2 separate regions of the Homo sapiens genome follow, and region 1 is linked to region 2. Evidence: fine-mapped expression QTL. A gene starts in region 2. The other region holds a variant in brackets. All regions are shown on one strand. Distances are from middle to middle. Region 1 has its middle 20 kb from the start of LAT. Region 2 holds the start of LAT (linker for activation of T cells).

What was found.
Region 1: its variant is fine-mapped to the expression of LAT in whole blood (TOPMed, PIP above 0.99).

What each region holds. Positions count from the first base shown.
Region 1 is chr16:29,002,626-29,008,143 of GRCh38, forward strand. No RefSeq gene overlaps it. Among named protein-coding and RNA genes, the nearest start is that of LAT, 20 kb to the left of the region's middle. The variant C/T (reference allele first, on the strand shown) is at 2,444.
Region 2 is chr16:28,981,935-28,986,934 of GRCh38, forward strand. LAT (linker for activation of T cells) reads left to right here and starts at 3,118. Exons shown (of 12, transcript NM_001014987.2): 1 at 3,118-3,583; 2 at 3,779-3,806; 3 at 3,920-3,954; 4 at 4,201-4,282; 5 at 4,448-4,512; 6 at 4,606-4,635; 7 at 4,723-4,780; 8 at 4,865-4,959. The coding sequence starts at 3,484. SPNS1 (SPNS lysolipid transporter 1, lysophospholipid) reads left to right here. Exons shown (of 12, transcript NM_032038.3): 7 at 1-122; 8 at 422-611; 9 at 923-988; 10 at 1,258-1,356; 11 at 1,852-2,023; 12 at 2,271-2,609. The coding sequence ends at 2,365. RefSeq lists silencers at 2,879-3,158, 3,179-3,238.

The DNA.
Region 1 (5,518 bases), 21 kb after region 2:
AAGCCACGGTCCTGAGAATGCAGATTTATTTAATTTGTATAAGCAGAAAACTTCCAGATCGAGTCGACAAAAGACTAATTTGAATTATAAAAACAGAATCAGGCTGGGCGCTGTGGCTCACGCCTGTAATCACAGCACTTTGGGAGGCTGAGACAGGAGGATCGCCTGAGGCCAGGAGTTTGAGACCAGCCTGGGTAACATAGTGAGACCCCATCTATACAAAAAAATACAAAAATTAGCTGGGCATGGTGGTGGGCGCCTGTAATCCCATCTACTTGGGAGGCTGAGGCATGAGAATCAGTTGACCCCGGGAGGCAGAGGTTGCAATGAGCCGAGATTGCACCACTGCACTCCAGCCTGGGTTATGGAGCGAGACTCAGTCTCAGAAAAAAAAAAAAAAAAAAAAAAACAGAGAATCACGGCCCCTCAGTCAATTTCCAGACTTGAGCCAGTTTACAGACCCAGAACCCCTTGAATGAGGGGAGGCCGTGTCCGCTTGAGGAAGGACCCCACTACACTACCGACAATTTATGCCATTTATCTTTCTCCCACCCTTCCGTAGAGAGACCTCTGAGCTCTTACCGGGATAACTGATCTTTCAGGGACTACTGGACACTGGCTCTGAGCTGATGTTGATTCCAGGGGTCCCTGAACATCACTGTGGACCTGCAGTTAAAGTAGGGGCTAATGGAGGTCAGGTAATTAATGGAGTTTTAGCTCAGGTCTGAATACAGTGGGTCCAGGGATCCCTGGACTCATCCTGTGGTCATTTTCCCAGTGCCAGAATGCATAATTTGCACAGACATTATACTTAGCATACTTGCCATACTTAGCAGCTGGCAGAATCACCACACTGGCTCTCTGACTGGTAAGGTAAGTACTATTATGGTGAGAAAGGCCAAAGGGAAGCCATTAGAGCTGCCTCTACCTAGAAAAACTGTAAATCAAAAACAATATCACATCCCTGGAGGGACTGCAGAGATTAGTGCCACCATCAAGGACTTGAAAGATGCAGGGGTGGTGATTCCCACCACATCCCCGTTCAACTCTTCCATTTGGCCTGTGCAGAAGACAGATGGATCTTGGAGAATGACAGTGGATCATCGTAAGCTTAAGCAAGTGGTCACTCCAGTTGCAGCTGCTGTACCAGATGTGGTTTCACTGCTTGAGCAAATTAACACATCTCCTGGTACCTGGTATGCCGCCATTGATTTGGCAAATGCCTTTTTCCCCATTCCTGTCCATAAGGCCCACCAGAAGCAATTTGCCTTCAGCTGGCAAGGCCAGCAATATACCTTTACTGTCATACATCAGGGGTTATCAACTCTCTGGCTTTGTGTCATAGTCTTATTTGGAGAGACCTTGATCGCTTTTCCCTTCCACATTATATCACACTGCTCCATTATATTGATGACATTACATTGATTGGATCTAGTGAGCAAGAAGTAGCAAACACACTGAATTTATTGGTGAGAATTTGTGTGCCAGGGGATGGAAAATAAATCTGACTAAAATTCACGGACCTTCTACCTCAGTAAAATGTCTAGGGGTTCAGTGGTGTGGGGCCTGTCGAGATATTCCTTCTAAGGTGAAGGATAAGTTGCTGCATTTGGCCCCTCCTACAATCAAGAAAGAGGCGCAATGCCTAGTTGGCCTATTTGGATTTTGGAGGCAACACATTCCTCATCTGGGTGCGTTACTCTGGCCCATTTATCAAGTGACTTGAAAGGCTGCCAGTTTTGAGTGAGGTCCAGAACAGGAGAAGGCTCTGCAACAGGTCCAGGTTGCTGTGCAAGCTGCTCTGCCACTTGGGCCATATGACCCAGCAGATCCAATGGTGCTTGAGGTGTCAGTGGCAGATAGGGATGCTGTTTGGATCCTTTGGCAGACCCCCATAGGTGAATCACAGCAGAGGCCTCTAGGATTTTGGAGCAAGGCCCCGCCATCTTCTGCAGATAACTACTCTCCTTTTGAGAGACAGCTCTTGGCCTGTTAAAGAGCTCTGGTGGAAACTGAATGTTTGACTATGGGTCATCAATTCACTATGCAGCCTGAACCGCCTGTCATGAACTGGGTGTTTTCTGACTCATCTAGCCATAAAATGGGTCGTGCACAGCAGCATTGTATCATCAAATGGAAGTGGGATTTACGTGATCGGGCTCAAGCAGGTCCTGAAGGCACAAGTAAGTTACATGGGGAAGTGGCTCAAATGCCCATGGTCTCCACTCTTGCCACCCTGCCTTCCCTTCCCCAGCCTGCACTGATGGCCTCATGAGTTCCCTATGATCAGTTGACAGAGGAAGAGAAGACTAGGGCCTGGTTCACAGATGGTTCTGCATGATATGCAGGCACCACTCGAAAGTGGAGAGCTGCAACACTCTAGCCCCTTTCGAGGACATCCTTGGAGGACAGCGGTGAAGGGAAATCTTCCCAGTGGGCAGAA[C/T]TTTGAGCAGTGCACGTGGTTGTGCACTTTTCATGGCAGGAGAAATGGCCAGATGTGTAATTATATACTGATTCATGGGCTGTAGCCAGTGGTTTGACTGGATGGTCAGGGACTTGGAAGAAGCATGATTAGAAAGTTGGTAATAAAGAAATTTGGGGAAGAGGTATGTGGATAGACCTCTCTGAGGGGTCAAAAACTGTGAAGATATTTGTAACCCTCCTGCTCAGCAGAGGAGGATTTTAATAATCAGGTGAATAGGATGACTTGTTCTGTGGATACCACTCAGCGTCTTTCCCAAGCCACCCCTGTCATCTCCCAACGGGCGCATAAACAAAATGACCATGGTGGCAGGGATGGAGGTTACGCATGGGCTCAGCAACATGGACTTCCACTCCCCAAGACTGACCTGGCTACGGCCACTGCCCAGTGCCCAATTTGCCAGCAGCAGAGACCAACACTGAGCCCTTGATCGGCACCATTCCTTGGGGTGACCAGTCAGCTACTTGGTGGCAGGTTGATTATATTGGGGTTCTTCCATCATGGAAAAGGCAGAGGTTTGTCTTCACTGGAATAGACACTTACTCTGGATATTGGTTTGCCTGTCCTGCATGTGATGCTTCTGCTAAGACTACCATCTGTGGACTCATGGAATGCCTCATCCACCATCATGGTATTCCACACAGCATTGCCTCAGACCAAGGCACTCACTTTATGGCTAAAGAATTCCAGTGGTTAGCTCCTGCTCATGGAATTCACTGGTCTTACCATGTTCCCCATTATCCTGAAGTAGCTGGATTGATAGAACGGTGGAATGGCCTTTGAAGTCACAATTACAATGCCAACTAAGTGACAATACTTTGCAGGGCTGGGGCAAATTTCTCCAGAAGGCCACATATGCTCTGAATCAGCATCCAATACATGGTACTCTTTCTCCCATCGCCAGGATTCACCAGTCCAGGAATCCAGGGGTGGAAGTGGAAGTGGCACCACTCACCATCAACCCTAGTGATCCACGAGCAACATTTTTGCTTCCTGTTCCCACGACATTATGTTCTGCTGGCCTAGAGGTCTTAGTTCCAGAGGGAGGAACACTGCCACCAGGAGACACAACGATTCCATTAAACTGAAAGTTAAGATTGCCACCCGGACACTTCAGGCTTCTCCTACCTTTGAGTTAACATGCTAAGAAGAAGGGAGTTACAATGTTGGCTGGGGTGATTGACTGGACTATCAAGATGAAATCAGTCTACTACTCCACAATAGAGGTAAGGAAGAGTATGCATGGAATACAGGAGATCCCGTAGGGCGTCTCTTAATAGTACCATGATCTGTGATTAAATTCAGTGGGAAACTACAATAGCCCAATTCAGGCAGGACTACAAATAGTCCAGACCCTTCAGGAATGAAGGTTTGGGTCACTCCACCAGGTAAAAAAAACCGCAACCTGCTGAGGTACTTGTGAAAGACAAAGGGAATACAGAATGGGTAGTAGAAGAAGGTAGTCATCAATACCAGCTATGACCACATGACCAGTTGCAGAAACGAGGACTGTAACTGTCATGAGTATTTCCTCGTTATTTTGTTGAGAATATGTTTGTGCATGTACACACTAAGAAAATATCTTCATTTTATTTCCTTTATCATGTGACATAAGATTTATTGACCTCATATCAGCATTTATGTGCTGTTAACTTTACGTAATAGCATTTAGGTTAAGGATTGGTGTGCTTCCGGTTGTATGAAGGATAGCTGTATTATGTTAGGTGTAATTATAAACTTTGTTTTTTTGGAGACAGAGCCTCGTTCTATCCCCCAGGCTGGAGTGCAGTGGTGTGATCTCGGCTCACTGCAACCTCTGCCTTCTGGGTTCAAGCCATTCTCCTGCCTCAGCCTCCCGAGTGGCTGGGATTACAGGCACACACCACCATGCCCAGGAAATTTTTGTATTTTTAGTAGAGACGGGATTTTGCCATGTTGGCCAGGCTGGTCTAGAACTCCTGACCTCAGGTGATCTGCCCGCCTCAACCTCCCAAAGTGCTGGGATTACAGGCCTGAGCCACTGCGCCCAGCCTATTATTGTCTTTATTTGAAAATTATGTATGATTTCAGGAGATGTATATGGGTTCAAATTGACAAGGGGTGGACTTGTGATAGTTAATATTGAGTGTCACCTTGATTGGATCGAAGGATGCAAAGTATTGATCCTGGGTGTGTCTGTGAAGGTGTTGCCAAAGGAGATTAATATTTGAGTCAGTGGACTGAGAGAGACAGACCCACCCTCAATCTGGGTAGGCACCATCTAATTAGCTGCCAGTGTGGCTAGGATAAAGTAGGCAGGGCTGGGTGCATGCCTGCAATCCCAGCACTTTGGGAGGCCGAGGCGGGTGGGATCACCTGAGGTCAGGAGTTCGAGACCAGTCTGGCCAACATGGTGAAACCTGGTCTCTACTAAAAATACAAAAATCAGCCAGGTGTGGTGGTGGGTGCCTGCAATCCCAGCTACTCGGGAGGCTGAGGCAGGATAATCGCTTGAACCTGGGAGGCGGAGCCTAGATGGCATCATTGCACTCCAGCCTGGGTGACAGAGCGAGACTCTGTCTCAAAATAAATAAATAAATAAAAGCAGGCAGAAGAAGTTGGAAAGAGCAGACTTGCTGAGTCTTTTGGCCTTCATCTTTCCCCTGTGCTTCCTGCCCCCAAATATTGAACTCCAAGTTCTTCAGCTTTTGGACTCTTGGACTTACACCAGTAGTTTGCCAGGGGTTCTTGGGCCTTCAGCCACAGACTGAAGGCTGCACTGTCAGCTTCCCTAATTTTGAGGTTTTGGGGCTTGGACTGGCTTCCCAGCTCCTCAGCTTGCAGATGGCCTATTGTGGGACTTCACTTGTTATCGTGTGAGTCAATTCTCCTAATAAATTCCCCTTCAAATATTTATCTATCCTATTAGTCCTGTCTCACTAGTGAACGCTAATACAGAGGTCCTGGATCCACTTGTTCCTGAAGCTGGATCCACCCATGAACTGTTCAGCTGCAGGAGTTAATAAGCACGCCTCTTTGGCTTGGCTCAGCTTCATC
Region 2 (5,000 bases):
GCTGTGGCCTTTGTCACGGGCTCCCTGGCTCTGTGGGCTCCGGCATTCCTGCTGCGTTCCCGCGTGGTCCTTGGGGAGACCCCACCCTGCCTTCCCGGAGACTCCTGCTCTTCCTCTGACAGGTGCCCAGATGGGGCTATGCTGGGGGGCCTGCGGGTGGCAGGGCTGGAGTGAAGAGCATCTGTGGCTCAGACCCAGGCAGGGAGTTTGACTCCTGACTTCACAAGCTGCCTGCTCTCCTGGAATCTCCGTTTCCTGGTCTGGGAAATAAGTGATGGGATGATGTCTGCCACTCAGGGCTGTGCCAACCATGGGGTGCTGTGTCTGTAGGGACCTTGGTTGTGAGGGTGGCTAGGATGGACAGCGTAGGGGCCTTGGCAGGCACAGGGACAAACCCCCCATTCCCTTCCCTCACCCCTAGTCTCATCTTTGGACTCATCACCTGCCTGACCGGAGTCCTGGGTGTGGGCCTGGGTGTGGAGATCAGCCGCCGGCTCCGCCACTCCAACCCCCGGGCTGATCCCCTGGTCTGTGCCACTGGCCTCCTGGGCTCTGCACCCTTCCTCTTCCTGTCCCTTGCCTGCGCCCGTGGTAGCATCGTGGCCACTTATGTGAGTAGCCAGCAGGTGTCAAGGGGGATGGCGTGGGTCCAGGGTGGAGGAGCAGTCAGCGTAATGGCCACTCGAGGTGGAATGCCTGGTTTTGAATCACAGCTCTGGCTCTTCCCAGCTGTGTGACATTGGACAAGTGACTTAACCTCTCTGTGCTCAGTTTCATCATGTGTAAAATGGGGATATTAGTAGCACCTGTCTCACTGGGGTGTGATGAGGATTAAATTAGTTAATAGATGAGCTGGGAACATGGTCAACTTTCCATGTGTTAGCCCTTACTGTCATGAACCCCCGACCCTCTCTTCCCCCAGATTTTCATCTTCATTGGAGAGACCCTCCTGTCCATGAACTGGGCCATCGTGGCCGACATTCTGCTGGTGAGTTGCTGGGCAGCTCCAGGGTCAGCGCAGAGGCTGATGAGAGCAGAGTTGGGGTCAGGAGTGTTGCCTCTACCCCTCAAAGCCCAGCCTCAACCTACCTTCTGCAATAAATAACATCTGTAGCAGACCCCCGGCCTGCCCTGCGACCTCAACCCCAGGCACACCTCTGACCCCGGCCTAGGCGGATCCTTGGTGGTCTCCTGGCCCCCTGCCTCCTGCCCCCTGGAGCCCAGAGCATCCACTGAGCTCCACCAACTCCTCCACAGTACGTGGTGATCCCTACCCGACGCTCCACCGCCGAGGCCTTCCAGATCGTGCTGTCCCACCTGCTGGGTGATGCTGGGAGCCCCTACCTCATTGGCCTGGTGAGCATTATTTCTTGGCTGGCATGGGGTGGCTGGTGTCCTGAGCCTGGGCTGGATCAGAAGGCCTGGCCCTAGTGAAGTGTCTGTGTCCTGCGTGCTGGGCACTTCTCACCTTCCATTGTCAACTGGAGGAGAAAGATTTTGTCTTTGAATATTTCTACCAGTAAGGCCAGGGACCTCACCCTGGTGGTCCAAACTCCTCCTTTCTTTTCTCTTTTCTTTTCTTCCTGAGACAAGACCTCACTCTGTTGCCCAGGCTGCAGTGTAGTGGCACGATCATGGCTCACTGCAGCCTCGACCTCCTGGGCTCAAGCGATCCTCCCACCTCAGCCTCCTGAGTAGCTGGGATGATAGGCATGAGCCACTGCATCTAGCTCAAACCTCCTTCCCTTTCCTGGGCTCCACTTGTCTTTCTCCCTGGAGCTCAGGGGCGTGCCCTCCCTGGTTCATCCATGAGGCTGACTCCCCTGGCTTTCCTGTCTCCTCTCCCTGCAGATCTCTGACCGCCTGCGCCGGAACTGGCCCCCCTCCTTCTTGTCCGAGTTCCGGGCTCTGCAGTTCTCGCTCATGCTCTGCGCGTTTGTTGGGGCACTGGGCGGCGCAGCCTTCCTGGGCACCGCCATCTTCATTGAGGCCGACCGCCGGCGGGCACAGCTGCACGTGCAGGGTCAGTTAGGAGCTGTGCCCGGCCCAGCTTCTTGATCTGCCTGTCTGTCTGTCCATCTGTCTGCCCACTCCTGTGCACCTGGCAGCTCAGTCCACAGCCCTCCCCTTGTTTGGCCTCCAGTCTGTCTGCATCCACCCCTGGGGTGGCTCTGTGGCTGCCCCATCCATTTCCCGCTGCCTGTTTGCCCTTCTCTGGCTTTGTCTGTCTGTCCATCCAGCTCACCCTGGCTCTGACCCTCCCCCCTCAGGCCTGCTGCACGAAGCAGGGTCCACAGACGACCGGATTGTGGTGCCCCAGCGGGGCCGCTCCACCCGCGTGCCCGTGGCCAGTGTGCTCATCTGAGAGGCTGCCGCTCACCTACCTGCACATCTGCCACAGCTGGCCCTGGGCCCACCCCACGAAGGGCCTGGGCCTAACCCCTTGGCCTGGCCCAGCTTCCAGAGGGACCCTGGGCCGTGTGCCAGCTCCCAGACACTACCTGGGTAGCTCAGGGGAGGAGGTGGGGGTCCAGGAGGGGGATCCCTCTCCACAGGGGCAGCCCCAAGGGCTCGGTGCTATTTGTAACGGAATAAAATTTGTAGCCAGACCCCAGGTGCCTGCTCTCGTCTTTCTCTGGGTGGCCTCTGATCTTGCACCCCGTCTTCACCCCAGGGCTCCTGAAGACTGTGGGTCATTCCTCAGGGCTCTGGGTGAGTCTCTGCCCTTCTGGGCTGGGCGACTGAGATGGGGGACTGCTCTTCTCCGAGTGAGCTGGCTGAGTGTGACCGTGAGTCACGCCCCTGCTTCCCTGGAGCCTGTCCCTTGCCTCACAGGCCTGGCTGAGGTGGGGGTGGGCACTGCCCTTTGTACCCCAGAATTCCCACTGTCAGGGCCTCCCTGCTCGCTGCCTCCCCGGGTCCTGGATATGGAGGCCACGGCTGCCAGCTGGCAGGTGGCTGTCCCCGTCTTGGGGGGGGCCAGCAGACCCTTGGTGAGTGCCTGGGGTGGCTCCCGGGCCTCCTCCTGCCCCCTCCCCACTGGCGGGTGGGGTGGGAAGGGGGCGGGTGCAGCCGGCTGAGAGCTTGATGATTTCCTGCCCTCGCCCGGCGCTCACCACAGCTTCCTGCCGCAGGCGGGCGGGAGGGCGGGCACGGAGAGGCGGGCGCCGAGGAGGGGCAGGTAGGGCTGGGACGCAGGGGTAACTGGATCCCCCGACTTCAGCCCAGGCCCTGGTCTGACCACCCTGGGAGCAGGGACTTTCCACAGTCAGCTGGACGCACACTCAGCCCAGTAAAAGAGGGGACCCATCCCGGGAGCCCCGGGGAGGGCACAGCTGCCTCCTCCCGGGCTCCCCTGCCACCTGGTGCCTACCTGCCCCCTGCTCCCTGCCGGGTCCGGTCCTCACCCCATCTTCATCTGGCCTTGACTCTGCCCTTGAGGGGCCTAGGGGTGCAGCCAGCCTGCTCCGAGCTCCCCTGCAGATGGAGGAGGCCATCCTGGTCCCCTGCGTGCTGGGGCTCCTGCTGCTGCCCATCCTGGCCATGTTGATGGCACTGTGTGTGCACTGCCACAGACTGCCAGGTGAGTGGGAAACTGGTGGGGGTACCCAGGGCCCAGGGACACCGACGGGATCCTCATCCACTCCCAGCCCCTGTGTCTGTCCTGGCTCTGTCCCTGCCTCCGTCCTGATCCCAGCGCCTCTGAGAGTCCCTGGATCCCAGCACCTTCTGCCCTAAGCACCCCCTGTTCCTGCCTCACCAGCCCTCTCTTTCCCAGGCTCCTACGACAGCACATCCTCAGATAGGTGAGTCCGCCCCAGCCGCCCTGGGTCTCCCTCCACACCCCATGGCGGGGCAGGGCTGGGGCTTCCATCCTCCATCTTCCAGCCCCATCCCCAAGCTGTGTCTCCTTTACCAGTTTGTATCCAAGGGGCATCCAGTTCAAACGGCCTCGTGAGTACAAGGAGGGTCCCCTACCTTGGGTGCCAGGGAGAGGGTCCCCTGGTGTGGGAGTGAGCGTGAACCTTCAGACTTCCCCTGCCACCTTGGGGCTGCCCACATGGCCTTGACCTGAGCTGGGAGAGGGGAGATGGCTCCCCCAGGCCTGTCCAGGGTGTGGGGCTTTCAGGGGCTTAGTCTGTTCTTTGAGGCCTTGACGATGTCCGGAGTCCTTCTTTCAACTTGGTTCTGTGTCCTCAGACACGGTTGCCCCCTGGCCACCTGCCTACCCACCTGTCACCTCCTACCCACCCCTGAGCCAGCCAGACCTGCTCCCCATCCCGTGAGTAGCTGCTCAGCCCCTGCCCCTCCAAAGCTCAGCCCCTCCCCCTCCAAACTCCACTCTCTACCCCTTCACTTTTTTGGATTGGGGGCCCCTTTCCCTTTTGCAACTGCTGTTGCCCCCTGAGCCCCACCTCAGGCATGACCCCTGACCTTTGACTCCCAGAAGATCCCCGCAGCCCCTTGGGGGCTCCCACCGGACGCCATCTTCCCGGCGGGATTCTGATGGTGGTAAGTGTGGGGAAGGGTTCAGGCGGCGGGGGCTGGGAAGAAGATAGGCCTGGCCTGAGCTGACTTAGTCTCCCTCTCACCCTCTCTTTGAAGCCAACAGTGTGGCGAGCTACGAGAACGAGGGTGCGTCTGGGATCCGAGGTGCCCAGGCTGGGTGGGGAGTCTGGGGTCCGTCCTGGACTAGGCTGACCCCTGTGTCGTTACCCCCAGAACCAGCCTGTGAGGATGCGGATGAGGATGAGGACGACTATCACAACCCAGGCTACCTGTGAGTGGCCAGGTGGGAGGTGGGAGGTGAGGGCTGAGGCTGTGCGTCCCCCCTTGCTCACCGGCCCTTTTCACTTCCTTTCAGGGTGGTGCTTCCTGACAGCACCCCGGCCACTAGCACTGCTGCCCCATCAGCTCCTGCACTCAGCACCCCTGGCATCCGAGACAGTGCCTTCTCCAGTGAGTCAGGCATTTGTTTTTATTTTTAAATTTTTTTAGGG